Regions from separate parts of the Homo sapiens genome. Here regions 2 and 3 are each linked to region 1. Evidence: fine-mapped expression QTL. A gene starts in region 1. Each other region holds a variant in brackets. All regions are shown on one strand. Distances are from middle to middle. Region 1 holds the start of NUDT2 (nudix hydrolase 2). Region 2 overlaps KIF24 (kinesin family member 24). Region 3 overlaps KIF24 (kinesin family member 24).

Region 1 (2,761 bases):
TTACCTTTTTTCCCTTAACTGACTAATTTTGGGCAAAATTGGGTACTCAGTTACAAAAAGTACACCAACGCACTGACTAGTGTATTTGCCTGTTCTTATTATAAGAATAATAGCTACCTTTTTTTTTTTGAGACGGAGTCTCCCTCTGTCGCCCAGGCTGGAGTGCAGTGGTGCGATCTCTGCTCTCTGCAAACTCCGCCTCCCGGGTTCGTGCCATTCTCCTGCCTCAGCCTCCCGAGTAGCTGGGACCACAGGCGCCCGCCACCACGCCCGGCTAATTTTTTGTGTTTTTAGTAGAGACGGGGTTTCACCGTGTCAGCCAGGATGGTCTCGATCTCCTGACCTCGTGATCCGCCCGCCTCGGCCTCCCAAAGGGCTAGGATTACAGGCGTGAGCCACCGCGCCCGGCCGCTACCATTTTTTAAGAAGTTACTACTCGCCAGGCGTTGTGTCAAGTGCTTTACCTTCATTATTTCACTTAATCTTCACAACAACCCGCTGAGGCATTACTGCCATTTTTCAGAAGAGTAGAAAGGGAACTATAGCTCAGAGATGTCTGGGTAAGTGACTCAAATGTAGGTCTGCCTGACTCCTAACATCAATGATCTTAACCTTAACTCTATAATAGCGTTTTACATTTGACAATTTGATTGCATTCAGTTTTTTTTTGTTTTGTTTTGTTTTTGAGACGGAGTCTCGCTCTGTCGCCCAGGCTGGAGTGCAGTGGCGCGACCTCCGCTCACTGCAAGCTCCGCCTCCTGGGTTCATGCCATTCTCCTGCCTCAGCCTCCCGAGTAGCAGGGACTATACGTGCCCGCCACGACGCCTGGCTAACTTTTGTATTTTGTTTAGTAGAGACGGGGTTTCACCGTGTTAGCCAGGATGGTCTCGATCTCCTGACCTCGTGATCCGCCCGCCTTGGCCTCCCAAAATGCTGGGATTACAGGCGTGAGCCACCGCACCCGGCCTGCATTGTTTACGCTGTCCCTTTTTTGTTTGTTTGTTTAAGGCGGTGGGGCTCTTGTTCGACTTTCTTTACTTCTGCTATAACTGCCACGATATTATCCATTCAATAACTGAAGCAATTAGAAAACATAAAATCTCTTTTGGAAAGCAGGCGGGGTTTAATGGGTAGCAACAAGTGAAACTGAGGCCCAGGGAGGGGAAGGTTCGGCGCCTGGGCCTCTGGGCCCTAAACCTGGACCTCTCCCGCCTCTGGGATTTGGACGACCCACCCTATCCCCACTCCGACGGGGACAAGCAAGGCTCAGAGTCAGGGAACCTCCCTTCTCCCGGTGCAGACAGGAAAACTGAGGTCCTGAGAGCGGATGGGACCTGGCCTGCCCACACCTCACTGCCAACTTAGAGGAGGGCGCATCCCTCTCGGGCCCTGCAGCGACCAGAGGTTTGCCAGAGGCAGATTCCCATCGCTCCAAGGCTCATTTCCTCCACTGAGAACTAAAATCAAGTGGGCCCTTAAGGGTACTCACCCGAAGCAGAAGGAGGTAGGAGGCGGACCTTGGACGGAAACTGAAGTACACCGGCCAATCAGAAGAGCCTGGTTACGCTTGGGCCCATCAATAGAATTCGGCAGAAGGATCTTCGACCCGCCTCAAAGGTGCGCGTCTCACACTGAAACGTCGCGAGATCTTCCCTCAAGCGGAACGATTGGCTGAAGGTCGGAAATTGAGAGTTACGCCCACGGTTTCTTCAGACCTCTGATTGGTCTTCCAGAGGAGAAGTCAACGAACGTCAACCGATTCCTTGGATGCCCATTGGTGGGCGGTGCGGGACTGGCGACGCGCGGGCCACAGCGCGGGCGTTCGAACTGGCGCTTGGCGGCGTTGCCATGGAGATGCGGCCTGGCCGCCGCCGGTGGCTCCCGGGTTGACGGGACTGTTAGGTTGCGGGCTTTGGGGCTCACTCCCGACGGCATTGTCTTCTCCTCTTCTCAGACAGGGCAGACCGAGGAGTTTGGACCGAGGTGAGAAAGGGCGGGGAGAATAGAGGAGGGGTAGGTCTGGTCCGGAACCGTGGCGCCTGCCCGCGGACACGGGTGCGCGTGACGTCGGCTGAGCGCGGGAGGAAACTGGCAGTTGTGAGGGAACCGAGAGTTGGCCCCTCTTGGCTCTTCCTAAAGTTCACCTACTTTCCTATCTTTCATCCCCATATCTCTGCCTTTTCTTCAGCAATTATCTTGAACGCCACTTCTCTCACTTTGGGAGACTAAACTCTTGAGTCCCAAAGCCTTCTTGCTTTTGAACCGATAAGCCTGACCGGCACCTCTTTTAGGGCATTTCTATTCGCCCTTGGGTTGTTTACTTCCGGGAAGCCCGTTCGCTTCCCTTTTCCCATAAAATTTTGAAGCCTTTGAGGTAAGGCAAGCATCGTTCACAATGTCTTGCACATAGTAGATTTTCAGGAAATATTTGTTGAGTTGAATTTAATTTACAAGAAATAGATTGGATTCCTCTTCATGCCCTGCCTTGTTGTCTCTCTGCTTCAGAGACGATTTTTTATTTCGAGGCTAGGGGGAGGCCACCCTAATCTTCAATGCAAAAGGACCTAAAAGTCCACACACAGTCCACAGCTGGCCTTTCTACTCTTTGTGAAAGGCTAAACTTTTTTGGATTGGTTGCTGCAACTCTTCCTGCATCTGTGGCTTTTAGCCTTGGTCTCCCAATAATTTTATTAGACTCCTTTTAGTCTTTGCTTAAAATAAACCATTCTGTTGCTGTATGCCAAGATAATTTATCTCCCT
Region 2 (2,761 bases), 34 kb after region 1:
TGGTTGGAGTTAGTCTGAACTTTGATGATAGGAATTATGTATTCTGGCTATAGTTTAGTTAATTTTTTCTTTGGAATCAGATAGATAAGTGAATATCACTTATCAATTTTTCATAGATGTATTTTTTTTTTTTTTGAGATGGAGTCTTGCTCTGTCGCCCAGGCTGGAGTGCAGTGGCGTGATCTCAGCTCACTGCAAGCTCTGCCTCCCACATTCACGCCATTCTCCTACCTCAGCCTGCCTCAGCCTCCCAAGTAGCTGGGACTACAGGCGCCCGCCACCACGCCCGGCTAATTTTTTTGTATTTTTAGTAGAGATGGGGTTTCACCGTGTTAGCCAGGATGGTCTCCATCTCCTGACCTCGTGATCCGCCCGCCTCGGCCTCCCAAAGTACTGGGATTACAGGCGTGAGCCACCACGCCCGGCCTCATAGATGTTTTTTTTTTTTTTTTTGAGACAGAGTCTCACTCTGTCGCCCAGGCTGGAGTGCAGTGGCGCCACCTCGGTGCACTGCAAGCTCTGCCTCCCGGGTTCACGCCATTCTCCTGCCTCAGCCTCCTGAGTAGCTGGGACTACAGGCGCCCACCACCATGCCTGGCTAATTTTTTGTATTTTTAGTAGAGACGGGGTTTCACTGTGTTAGTCAGGATGGTCTCGATCTCCTGACCTCGTGATCCGCCCGCCTCGGCCTCCCAAAGTGCTGGGATTACAGGTGTGAGCCATCGCGCCCGGCCAGATGTATTTTTAAGTTATTATTCACACTTAATAAACGTTGAATGGGACAGGAATGATAGTAAGGGCCTCTGTTGCATAAGTATTTAAAATATAGGCATGGGCCACATGTGGTGGCTTGCACCTGTAATCCAAGCACTTTGGGAGGCCAAGACAGGAGGATAGCTTGAGCCCAAGAGTTTGAGACCAGTCTGGGCAACATAAGGAGACCCTATCTCCACACACACCAAAAAATATTTATTTTATTTTATTTTATATTTTTGAGACAGGGTCTCACTCTGTCACCCAGGCCAAAGTGCAGTGGTGCAATCTTGGCTCACTGCAACTTCTGCCTCTCAGGTTCAAGCAATCCTCCCATCTCAGCCTCCTGAGTAGCTGGGACTGCAGGTGCCTGCCACCACGCCCAGCTAATATTTCTGTATTTTTTTAGAGATGGGGTTTTGCCATGTTACCCAGGCTAGTCTTGAATTTCTGGGCTCAAGCAATCCTCCTGCTTCAGTCTCCCAAAGTGCTAGGATTATAGGTGTGAGCCACCATGCCTGGTCTATAAAATTTTTTTTTTTAATTAGCCAGGCATGGTGATGTGCACCTGTGGTCCCAGCTACTTGGGAGGCTGAGGTGGGAGGATTGCTTGAGCCCAGGAGGTCAAGGCTGTAGGAGCTGTGGTCTTGCACTGTACTCCAGCCTGGGCAACAGAGCAAGACCCTGCCTCTGTCTGTCTGTCTGTCTGTCTGTCTGTCT[GTCTA/A]TCCATCCATCCAATCCACCTACCTAGCTATCTACCTACCTATCTAATCTACCTACCTACCTATCTACCTACCTATCTATTAAAATTGTAGGCATGTATGATAGAAAATGCCAAGTAGCCTGCTAGTGTTGCTGATTCCAGAGAATTTTGACTGTTTTTTCAAACAACTTTTTAAAAATTGAGGGATAATTTACATACAATAAGATGCACAGATCTTAAGTATTCACATTTGATGAGTTTTGAGAGTTTTATATACGTGAGTAACAAATATCTGTAACAAGACATGGAACATTTTCATCACCCCAGAAAGTTCTCTTGTGTCCCTATTTAGTTAATCCTCCACCCTCACCCCCAGGTCTTAGGTAACCACTGACTTACTTTCTGTCAGTATAGATTAGTTTTATCTGTTCTACAATATCATAGAGATAGAATCATTATACTTATATGCTTAACATAATGTTTGCTTAGCATAATGGTGTTTTATATTAGTACATGTTGTTACACGTATCTGTGGTTTTCATTGCTGAGTAATATTCCCTTCTATGAAATTATCACACTTTGTTTTGTCTATTCTCCTGTTGACAGATATTTGCATTGTTTCCGGCTTTGGACTTTATGAATAAAGTATGAACATTCTTTTTTTTTTGAGACGGAGTTTCACTCTTGTTGCCCAGGCTGGAGTGCAATGGTGCGATCTCAGCTCACCGCAACCTCTGCTTCCCGGGTTCAAGTGATTCTCCTGCCTCAGCCTCCCAAGTAGCTGGGATTGTAATCCCACACCCGGCTAATTTTTTATTTTTTAGTAGAGATGGGGTTTCTCCATGATGGCCAGAACATTCTTGTATAATTTTTTTTATGAGCATGTTTTCATTTACTTTGGGTAACAACCTAGAAATGGAATTGCTGGCTCATAGGATAGGTTTATATTTATAAGAAAGTGTCAGTCGGGCACAGTGGTTCACGCTTGTAATTTCACACTGTGGGAGGCCGAGATGGGAGAATCATTTGAGCCAGGAGTTCAAGACCAGCCTGGGCAATATAGTGAGACCCTATCTCTAAAAAAAATTTTTTTAATTAGCTGGGTTTGGTGGCATATGCCTGTAGTCCCAGCTACTTGGAAGGTTGTTGCTTGAGCCCAAGAGATCAAGGCTGCAATAATCTGTGATCACTACACTCCAGCCTGGGCAACAGAGCAAGACCCTGTCTCAAAGAAGAGAAAAAAGGGAAAATGTCAAACAACTTTTCAAAGTGTACCATTTTATACTCCCAACAGTAACATGAGAA
Region 3 (2,761 bases), 21 kb after region 1:
CTTGTAAAAAAAAAAAAAAAGTACTCCTTGTTTTATTTTAAACATTATATATGTGAGTTATGGGCAAACAAAATTCATTCTTGAGCCATATTTTCTTTTTAAAAATACTGTTATTCATACCTTAAGATAAAGAATTTATATCTGGTCTTACATTGGCTAAGGTTTCAGAAGATCTCATAATCAGTTATTTTACTCCATAAAAATAGAAGACTCAGTTTTAACAGTAAAAATATCTTTAATAATTTGAAATACATAAGTGAATTTTTATTATAATATTTCTGAAAACATTTTGTTTGGTCTAGGAGATCACAGAGCATGTAATACTGTTTTCTTCTTTTAATTCTGAGAGGAATAGATTGTTCCTTGACTATGAAGGCAGATTGTTGCTATTGCATTGGTTACCTCAGCGGTGAAGGAGTAAATATTTTCTTTTTTTTTTTTTTTTTTTTGAGACGGAGTCTCGCACTGTCGCCCAGGCTGGAGTGCAGTGGTGCAATCTCTGCTCACTGCAAGCTCCGCCTCCCGGGTTCATGCCATTCTCCTGCCTCAGCCTTCCGAGTAGCTGGGACTACAGGCGCCCGCCACTATGCCTGGCTAATTTTTTGTATTTTTAGTAGAGGTGGGGTTTCACCATGTTAGCCAGGATGGTCTTGATCTCCTGACCTTGTGATCCACCCGCCTCAGCCTCCCAAAATGCTGGGATTACAGGCGTGAGCCACCACGCCTGGCCTATTTTCTTGAATATTACTTTTTTACTGAACAGTACATAAAAATCTAAATTGGAATTACTTATAAGTAAAAATACCACTTTATTTAACACCATCAAGGATAGGATGGATATTTTAGTTTAACCATTACCATTTCATTTATTTGACTCTTTTGTTTATTTGTTTGTTTGTTTGATTTGTAGAGACAGGGTCTTGCTCTGTCACCCAGGCTGGAGTGCAGTGGTGCAGTCATAGTCCACTGGGGCCTCAAACTCCTGAGGTCAAGTGATCCTCCTGCCTCAGCCACCCAAGTAGCTAGGACTACAGGTATGCACCACTGTCCCCAGCTAATTTTTCAATTTTTTGTAGAGTTGGGGATCTCACTATGTTACCCAGGCTGGTCTTGAACTCCTGGCCTCAAGTGATCCTCCCACCTCAGCTTCCCAAAGCACTGGGATTACAGGTGAGAGCCACTCTGCCCTGCCCAAACTAGAGCTTTTTAAAAAAACATGCATGTCTTTTTGCTCCTTGAACTTGAAACTATGGGCCTTTTGTTCATATGAGTCATC[C/G]TAGAGCCCTGAACAATTTTAAAAAGGACCAAACATTTTCTATCCTCTTTGATCAGCTTTATATGATTAGGTTATTGATATCCAACAACTAAAGATTTTAACACAAAACCCTTATTAAAATGATGCATTAGGCCAGGCACAGTGGCTCACACCTCTAATCCCAGCACTTTGGGAGGCCAAGGCGGGTGGATCACCTGAGGTCAGGAGTTCAAGGTCAGCCTGGCCAACATGGCTAAACCCCATCTCTACTAAAAATACAAAAATTAGCAGAGCGTCATGGCAGGTGCCTGCAGTCCCAGCTATTCTAGAGGCTGAGGTAGGAAAATCGCTTGAACCCAGGAGGCAGAGGTTGCAGTGAGCCAAGATTGTGCCACTGCACTCCAGCCTGGGTGACACAATGAAACTCTGTCTCAAAAAAAAAAAAAAGCATTAAAAATTTTCATTTTTGATGAGCACAGTGGCTCATGCCTGCAATCCTGGCATTTTGGGAGGCCAAGGCAGGCAGATTGCTTGAGCCCAGGAGTTCGAGGCCAGCCTGGGCAACATGGTGAGACCCTGTTTCTACAAAAATACAAAAATTAGCCAGACATGATGGTGTGCACCTGTAGTTCCAGCTACTATTGGCTGAAGTGGGAGGATGGCTTCAGCCCAGGAGGTTGAGGCTTCAGTGAGCTATGCTCGCACCACTGCACTCCAGTCTGGGTGATAGAGCAAGACCCTGTCTCAAAACAAAAAATTCCCTTTTCTTGTGAAAAATCAAACATATGCAAAAGAAGAAAAAAATAGAACACTGAATCCCAATATGTCCATCATCCAATTTCTTTTTCTTTTTTCTTTTTTTTTTTTTTTTTTTCAGACAGAGTCTTGCTCTGTTGCCCAGGCTGGAATGCAATGGCACTATCTCACCTGTGAACTCCACCTCCTGGGTTTAAGTGAGCATGCCCAGCTAAGTTTTATATTTTTAGTAGAGATGGGGTTTCACCATGTTGGCCAGGCTGGTCTCGAACTCCTGACCTCAAGTGATCTGCCCGCCTCAGCCTCTCGAAGTGCTAGGATTACAGGCGTGAGCCACCGCACCTGGCCCGTCATCCAGTTTCAATGATTGTCACGATTTTCCCACAGTACCTCAAAATGGTACATTTCATTTATTCTGTCATTTATTTATTCCATCTGCAGTTTCATGCAAAAATGATGCATTTTAAAGTCCCTAAATGTTGGTTAAGAAAATAAAATTTGCTTTAAAACATGCCATAAAATTAGTGCTTTATGCATTCATTATATTAGAAAATTATTTGCTGGTTTTTTTTTTTTTAAACCAATTCAGATCCCAGTAAAAAAATTATTCTCCAGGCTGAGCGTGATGACTGATGCTTGTAATCCCAGCACTTTGACAGGCCAAAATGGGAGGATTGCTTGAGGCCATAAGTTGAAGACCAGCCTGGGCAAGATAGTGGGACCCTGTCCCTACAAAAATTACAAAAATTA

The links. PIP is the estimated chance that this variant, and not a neighbour inherited with it, causes the effect.
Region 2: its variant is the best candidate, but not a certain one, in a credible set for the expression of NUDT2 in monocytes (Fairfax 2014, PIP 0.72).
Region 3: its variant is the best candidate, but not a certain one, in a credible set for the expression of NUDT2 in whole blood (INTERVAL, PIP 0.63).

What each region holds. Positions count from the first base shown.
Region 1 is chr9:34,328,329-34,331,089 of GRCh38, reverse strand. It overlaps NUDT2 (nudix hydrolase 2), which reads right to left and starts at 1,521. Exons shown (of 5, transcript NM_001161.5): 1 at 1,491-1,521. It overlaps KIF24 (kinesin family member 24), which reads left to right and starts at 1,822. Exons shown (of 13, transcript NM_194313.4): 1 at 1,822-1,984. RefSeq lists enhancers at 1,576-1,765, 1,301-1,808, 1,896-1,995, 2,096-2,155.
Region 2 is chr9:34,293,911-34,296,671 of GRCh38, reverse strand. All of the region lies in intron 4 of KIF24 (kinesin family member 24), which reads left to right. Among named protein-coding and RNA genes, the nearest start is that of KIF24, 34 kb to the left of the region's middle. The variant GTCTA/A (reference allele first, on the strand shown) is at 1,474.
Region 3 is chr9:34,307,229-34,309,989 of GRCh38, reverse strand. All of the region lies in intron 2 of KIF24 (kinesin family member 24), which reads left to right. Among named protein-coding and RNA genes, the nearest start is that of KIF24, 21 kb to the left of the region's middle. The variant C/G (reference allele first, on the strand shown) is at 1,277.